2 linked regions of the Homo sapiens genome follow. The protein of the gene in region 2 purifies or fractionates together with the protein of the main gene of each other region. This does not show direct contact. Each region holds a gene or a part of one and is shown on either strand. Other genes may lie near its edges.

Evidence for each region.
Region 1: the proteins of SAFB2 (region 2) and CIZ1 purify together in Homo sapiens (affinity purification with mass spectrometry; 2 studies listed by BioGRID and IntAct, with this or other methods). This does not show direct contact.

The regions. Positions count from the first base shown.
Region 1 is NC_000009.12:128,177,973-128,181,572, forward strand, and holds part of CIZ1 (cip1-interacting zinc finger protein), read right to left. Parts: intron 2,843-3,600; coding exon 2,749-2,842; intron 2,552-2,748; coding exon 2,443-2,551; intron 1,444-2,442; coding exon 737-1,443; intron 519-736; coding exon 397-518; intron 1-396. UniProt on the Homo sapiens protein: May regulate the subcellular localization of CIP/WAF1.
Region 2 is NC_000019.10:5,608,920-5,613,036, forward strand, and holds part of SAFB2 (scaffold attachment factor B2), read right to left. Parts: intron 3,649-4,117; coding exon 3,621-3,648; intron 2,712-3,620; coding exon 2,201-2,711; intron 1,770-2,200; coding exon 1,720-1,769; intron 1,177-1,719; coding exon 1,076-1,176; intron 1-1,075. UniProt on the Homo sapiens protein: Binds to scaffold/matrix attachment region (S/MAR) DNA. Can function as an estrogen receptor corepressor and can also inhibit cell proliferation.

The sequences.
Region 1 (3,600 bases), on a different chromosome or scaffold from region 2:
CCCACCCCTTGTATGACAGATGGGGAAACAGACTCAGGAGGGAAAGGGTTTGCCCACAGTTACGCAGAGCTGGGACCCAAATCCCACAGAGAGGCTTCCACTCTGTGCTCTCTCCACGAGAGCAACATTACCCATGCGAGGAGACTGGGGCTCTGGCTTGGGGATGGGCAGGCTGGAAGGGACGGATGTGAAGACAGCACAACAGCAAGAGGGTCCCATGCACACCACTATCAAGCCCAGCCTGGTCTGGCCACCCATCCTAGGCAGAGGGCTGTCATCCCATTTCACGGTGGGGGAAACACAAGGAGGCCCTGAGGTGGCCTGGGGCAGAAAGAGGCCATCCCACCCTGCTGGGCTCTGTGGCCCTCACACTGCCACATCAGGGCCTCTACCCACCCCTGGCATCTCTCTCGCTCTGTTTTCACATTCTCCCACATCTAGGCCACAGGCCGACTCATTCTGAATCTCTTCCATGCTGACTTGGGTGCCCACAGGCTCTGGCAAGGTCTTTTCCATGCCTGAAATGACAGATGTGCTGTATTTCCCAGAGTCCCCAGGCCCAAGAGCTGCCTTCTCCGTCCGCAGCCAGAACCTTGAGGCCCCCAGCATGGATGGCCCTGGACCTGGGTTCCAGGCCTAGCCCTCAGTCCCAGGCAGCACCCAGTCAGGGGAGGAATGAAGGGTCTGGGCAGAGCTGTCCCATCACCAGACCAGCTGGGAGCCAGTGCTCACTTACCTCCACCAGCTTCTACTGCATCAGGTGGCATCTCCAGCCCGCAGACATGAACCACAACTGGTGTTTGCTCTGGAGCCAGCAACGACACCTGCGGCTGGGTGTGAGGCTGCTCATGGGTCTGCTCTGGTGGCTGTACTGACACCTGCGCTGGAGGATGCTCCTGTGGCTGGACGCTTGGCTGTGCCTGTGTGTGGACCTGTGGATATGTCTGTGTCTGGACCTGCTTCTGCAGCTGCAGCTGCACCTGCCTTGGGGGCTGTGAATGTGCCTGGGGCTGCACCTGTGGCTGCACCTGCTTCAGCGGCTCTGCCTCCTGCTGCAGCTGCACCTGCCTTGGGCCCTGTGAATGTGCCTGTGGCTGTACCTGTGGCTGCACCTGCTTCTGTGGCTCTGCCTCCTGCTGCAGCTGTGGCTGCACCTGCTTCTGTTGCAGCACTAAGTGCTCTGGAGAGGTCTGTGTTTGCGCCTGCTTCTGCAGCTTTGGCTGCACCTGGGTGTCTGTGGATGGTATCCGCGGCTGAGTCTGTGACTGCACCTGGGCCTGGACCTGCAGGACCCGTGGCTGGAATCGTGGCAGCACTTGGGCTTCCAGGGCCTCAGGCAGCAGGTCTGGTGTCTGTGTCTGTTTCGGTACTGTCATCCGGGCCTGCGGCTGGGCCTTCACCTGTAACTGCCCTGGAGGTTCCTTCTCTGTGGGCTCTTCTGAGCTAGGAAGGATCAAAAAAAAATCCCAGTCATGTCTTCAAAGAGGCCCCAGGGGCTCCCAAGTAAGGCCAAAACTAGGCCGAGCGTGGTGGCTCGCATCTGTAAACCCAGCACTTTGGGAGGCTGAGGCAGGTGGATCATTTGAGGTCAGGAGTTCCAGATCAGCCTAACCAACATGGTGAAACCTGGGATTACAGGTGTGAGCCACCGCGCCCAGCCCAAGACTGTTTCTTTTTGTTTGTTTTTGGTTTTTTGTTGTTGTTTGTTTGTTTTTTTGAGATGGAGTTTCGCTCTTGTTGCCCAGGCTGGAGTGCAATGGCGCGATCTCGGCTCACCACAACCTCCGTCTCCCAGGTCCAAGCGATTCTCCTGCCTCAGCCTCCGGAGTAGCTGGGATTACAGACATGCGCCACCACACCCAGCTAATTTTGTACTTTTAGTAGAGACGGGGTTTCTCCATGTTGGTCAGGTTGGTCTCAAACTCCCAACCTCAGGTGATCCGCCCGCCTCAGCCTCCCAAAGTGCTGGGATTACAGGTGTGAGCCACCACATACAGCCCAAGACTTGGTTTCTAATGCTGGCTCTACCACTTACAGGCTGGGGATTTGGGCAAACTCCTTTGGCTGTCTAGGCCTCAGATTCACCTAAATAAACCGGGGAGGATCGTTCTCACCTCCCACAACTTGCTGACATGTATCCAATTGGCTTTGTAAATGGCCTGCCCACTACGGTCCCAGATGAACGTCTTCACCCCTCCCACGCAGCCATCCAGCTTGGCCCCCAGGTGGCTCAGTCTCAAGGAAGACACCAGAGTCTGGCTGGGAGCTTCCCCAGGTCAGGTGCGGAAATAAGTAAGGCCTTCCTCCAAATCAGAGGCCAAGGCCCTTTCCTTGCTCCAGCTCCACTGAATGGTGCACCCCCTCTGCCATTGCCACCCCTGCCTTTGCAGGAATGAGAGCACAGGGCACCCGGGCGCAGGTCAGGTTTTCAGCATCAGTTACCTCCTCAATCTCTTTGCTGGCAGCTCGGACGCCTCACAAGGCTCAGGCTCAGGTGCTGGAGTGCGTTTTTCCTTGGCGATGTCCTCTGGGCAGGGCGGTAAATCTTGGTCTGGAATGGAGGCATGAGCGAGGGAACTCATGTTGGGAAGAGCAAGCATCTCTGACCTCCAAGAGATGGGGCCTGGGCTCCCCGCCTTCCCACCAAGAACCCCTGCCTCCCACACCTGCCTCTATCACCTGCTGACCCGCCCACTGGCCCCACCCCATTCATGTCCCTCTGAAGGGCCAGCAGCCTCCCTCCCTCACCTTCTGGTGTGTCCATCCGGGGCTCTGCGGCTTCCTCAGACCCCTCTGGGGGGTCTGACTTGTCTTCCACAGGCATTGTCTGAGAAGAAGAATCCTGCTTCCTTTCAGAAACTATGTTGACATCCAATACCCACCCCTATCAATACCCCCTTGCCCAAGGGCAGCTGCCCCCCATCCTCCAGGGGATGACAGGGCCCTGAGGACCTCTGGTGGGCCTGGCCCCAGAGTTGCCGAGTGGATGATCTTAGTAAAAATGTCCCAACCATGGTGTCTAGGGGATTCTACCTAGTTGTCTGTTAAATAAACCCAGGTTTGGAGGACACAAAGCCTTCTCCTGGCCACAGTGCTACCTCCTGACCTGACTTCCCACCCAGTTTTACATGAAGTAGCCAGTGGGGTCCTTTTTTTTTTTGAGACAGAATTTCAGTCTTGTGGCCTAGGCTGGAGTGCAATAGCACAATCCCGGCTCACTGCAACCTCTGCCTCCTGGGTTCAAGCAATTCTCCTGCCTCAGCCTCCCAAATAGCTGGGATTACAGGCACACGCCACCACGCCTGGCTAATTTTTGTATTTTTAGTAGAGTTGGGGTTTCACTATGTTGGCCACGCTGGTATCTGTGGGTGGCAAGCCACCCAGGCACCGAGGCAAGAGACAGAGGACACGAGCTGTTCCAGTATAATAAAATATAAAACAAGAATTGTTATACCAGATATAGATCTTAGATATGATTATATATGAGTATCATTAATCATTAGTTGGTAGCAATTACTTTTTATTCCAATATTATGATAATCCTCACTCAATAATCATAGCCTAGGAAAAACCAGGCCATACAGAGATAGGAGCTGAGGG
Region 2 (4,117 bases):
TGCCTGTAATCCCAGCTACTCGAGAAGCTAAGGCACGAGAATCACTTGAACCTGGGAGGGAGGCGGAGGCTGCAGTGAGCCAAGATCACACCACTGCACTTCAGCCTGGGCAACAGAGCGAGACGCAGTCTCAAAAAAAAAAAAAAAAAAAAAAAGAACAACAAACAAACAAAAAAAGAAGACTCTTAATTAATTTCAAACAGTGGAATCATTTTAAATTGTCCTCACCTTCCTTTGGAAAGCTGCTGAATTGTACTATTTTTCTCCCACCCCCATGAGCAGCATCTTAGTGATTTATTTTTGAACCACGATCATGTTCTAGTTATGAGACTATATACTTAAAATGCTAAATGATATGAAAGTCAATTATTCACTTCATTCTTTTTTTTTTTTTTTTTTTTTATGACATAGTCTCGCTCTGTTACCCAGGCTGGAGTGCAGTGGCACAATCTTGGCTCACTGCAACCTCTGCCTCCTGGGTTCAAGTGATTCTCCCACCTCAGCTTCCCGAGTAGCTGCGACTACAGGCACAGAACACCACGGCTGGCTGATTTTTGTATTTTTAGCAGAGACAGGGTTTCGCCATGTTGGCCAGGCTGGTCTCCAACTCCTGACTTTAGGTGATACGCCCGCCTCGGCCTCCCAAATTATTCTTAAGGGAAAAATCTCATCATGTAAGCTTTAAGTTTTGCACAAGACAAAAGACCACCAGTCTCTTTGAGACCAGTTAGAAAGAACCCCAAGAACATTGAGAGAGAAGCTGTTTATACAGCTGTTCTGAGCACTGTTGTGATATGACCAACCACCTGCCCTGCTCCGCACCCTAGTTACTGTGAGTCAGGAAACAAGGTGCACTGCACAAGACTGGGCGAGCTTCGCTGCTGTCGTTCCATTTTTTAGTAAACACAACATCTTGCTATGTTGCCCAGGCTGGTCTTGAACTCCTGGGCTCAAGCAATCCTCCTGCCTCAGCCTCCCAAACTGCTGGGATTATAGACGTGAACCACCGTGCCCAGCAGAGCTTCCTTTTTAACTCTGAATCACAGTGGATGGTATGAGGCAAGGGAAGGCATACCTTCCCATACTTGCTGAAAAGGTTCTTGAGATCCGTAGCGCGTGTTGTGGAGGACAGCCCGCTGACCCACAGGTTCCGACCAGAACCGCTGCCGACCCGACCTGGCACGAGAGGGAGATTCTTAGGCATCACCCCAAGGCCTAACAGGAAGCACAACCATTCTTAAGACCGCAGCCCTCTTTAAAAACCCTAACGACGCCCAATCCCAACTGCTGACTTAAGAATTTAACGCACACACACATGCCAACACACAGAAGGCTGAAAATCTGGACAGCAAAAACTGAGTTTCCTTACTCAAGGAATAATCATGCCCATGTCAGTTATGAACTGAAATGTCTTTTGATGATCAGATCTCATCCAAGACGGCAGTCTCTAAAATCCTTGAAACAGTCTTCAATGAGCAGAATTATTCCTTTCTTGTAATGTGCTTTTCACCATCCCATAGATGACAACCACAAGAGAAACATAAAATGCAGGTGCTTGCGAACTTCTAAAACTAGTCTCTCAAGAAACCATTAGGTGGTTGATTCCGGTAACCCATAACAAAACAAATTACTGAATCCAAAGTGTGTATATCTCCAGGCCCCTCCTCCCAAAATAAGGGAACCATACCTGGCTCCCTACCACGTTAAATTAAATCATACCTTTTTCATCTTTAATGATTGGCTTTATATCTTTTTCTTCCTTAAAAGAGCTAGAGACAAAAGTTAATGTTACTCATACAGGAAAAAAACGAAAGAGAACAAAACTAAAAATATGATTATGTGCTAAAACTGAATACCTACCAGAAAATTAGTCTGAAATAAAATTTTAACAGACACCTCTGCAAGCTTATATTGGAAAATCTGACCCCAAAAATACAATGTCAGATTTGTAAAAGTCAATTCGATTTAGCTGAAGATAACAATTAACAATTTAAGAACACAACCATGGTAGGTTGAGAAAAAGAAAAGGAATTGAATCACCCATTAAAAACACACAAAGAGAAACGAAACATTCTTTAGAAGCAAAACTACAATTTCGTCAGTCTGGCTGGCCAATTGCAGAAAAAAACAGCTTATGTGTGTCATTACATGACCAATGAAAAGGAGATAGCGTCTGGTCTAAAACTGAGAAAAAACAAACCTCATTTTCTGATCAGCGCCCTCACTGGTTGAGGACTCTTTAGGAGCCGGAGGGACTTCATTACAAGCGTCAAAATCAAACTTCCTCCCGTCTTCTTTGCTATCTCTGGCTTCTGGGCTTGGGGCTTCCGTGGGTGCTTCTGCGAGCTCCTCGCTAGAGGCCTCCGCGAGCTCGGAGGCCGCACTACTCTGCTCAACTGCCGGCTCTAGCCCTACAGGCTCACAGTCCGTCCTCTCGCCATCGCCTGGCTGCTCCGCGGGCTCCCTTTTCACTACCGCTAACAGGCTGTCTGCCTTGCTCGACTGAGCGTGTGCTGTTGACTCGCTGGCCAAATCTAAATCACCCTCTTCCGGATGGGCGCTGTCAAATAGGTCCTCTTCCTCCGCAAGCTTTCTGTCTGGCCCCACGCTACTTGTGTCCTGTGCAAATGGCTGCTCCAGCTCGGAACTTTCTTCTTTTACTGGCTCAGATTTACAAGTTTCCCCCAAAATGTCGAGTATTTTCTCATTTTCTACGGATTTAACAGGAATAGAATGGCACAAGGTTTAATTACCAGGGAAATAAAGCAATCACAAATGTGGAACTGGCACGGCTGCCACACTAACACGAAGAGAACTGCTAGCTACACAGAGATTGGAAAACCCGCGGGTACACAAAGTTATACTGGTTACACTACCTGCGCCGCGACCGCCTCTAGGTAAGCCTCTACGCTACACGGAAGAGAAAAGGCCCCCACAGATTTAAACACCTACAACCACGCGGCTGGTTCTCAATAGTCTTCTTCGAGTTTTTGTTCAAGTCTGGGTCTTCTGACTGATTTTCCAATGTCCAAGGTGCTGAACCGAATGCAATCACCATTCAATGACAGCTCAACTTCCAAATTTCTTTGAATTTCTTTTAACAGAACAATCCAATATGAAAATCAGAATCTCTTCTGACGGTGGGAGATAAACGCAGTCCGGAAGGGGAATAATATGTTGAAAATTTTCACGGAGAAACTCTGTTTCCTCTTCTGGAATCCAGTCACTTCTCAGGTGGTAAGTGCCCTGACAACAGCTTTATCCTGCCTTAACTGCGTTAATCAAAATGACTGCAGCAAAATATCACAAGATCTGTTTCATGTGTAGAAACACATGGAGGAATCACGGGGACGGGGGAATTAAATGCCACTCTACGTGGTTAGACATGAAAAGAATCACTACTACATTGCACCAAATGTATTTGACCTCAAGAAGCCAGAATGGCTCTTCCACAGATCTGGTGATACGAATGGGTTTCCAATCTCTGATCCTTGTATGATCTGGATTGTCCACCATTAGAGCAATTTACAAGATCATAACACAGCTTAAAATATAGACAGCTTTAAAATAATAGTGTGAAAACTTTCAAACCATAACTGTCGTGTTTCTCTTATCAGTACCTGGCTCCAAAAGGGATTCTTCAATGTCCTATTTAAAAAAGAAAAAGCAAATCCACAAGTCACTTTAAACACGGGGCACATACATTTCACCAGTAAATATGGCTTTCAATCATCTGTGAATAAATGCCTGTTTCCACAAAACTTTCTTGTCTCCAAAAAATGTATTCCATCCTACAATAACCTGATGAAAACCAGCTCATTTTAACAGTTTCCCTGGTAACAGCAGGTCCCTAGTGATAACAGTCTGTCCCATTCTCCCGAGTTTGGGCCCTGCCCTGCCATGCCACCCACCCCATGACCAAGCTGACCTAGTGGCTGCTGCAGCTGGCAAACACCCCCTTTGTCAGAGAAGAGGTCACAGTGGATTTAAGAAAAAAATACTTCTCCCAACATAAACTGATTTGTAACTGAAACCTGTCATAACAAAATGATCTCTCTACTCTGCTGAAAACCTTTTCCGACATCTGTCTCACTTAGGACAATAGGTCCAATCCTTC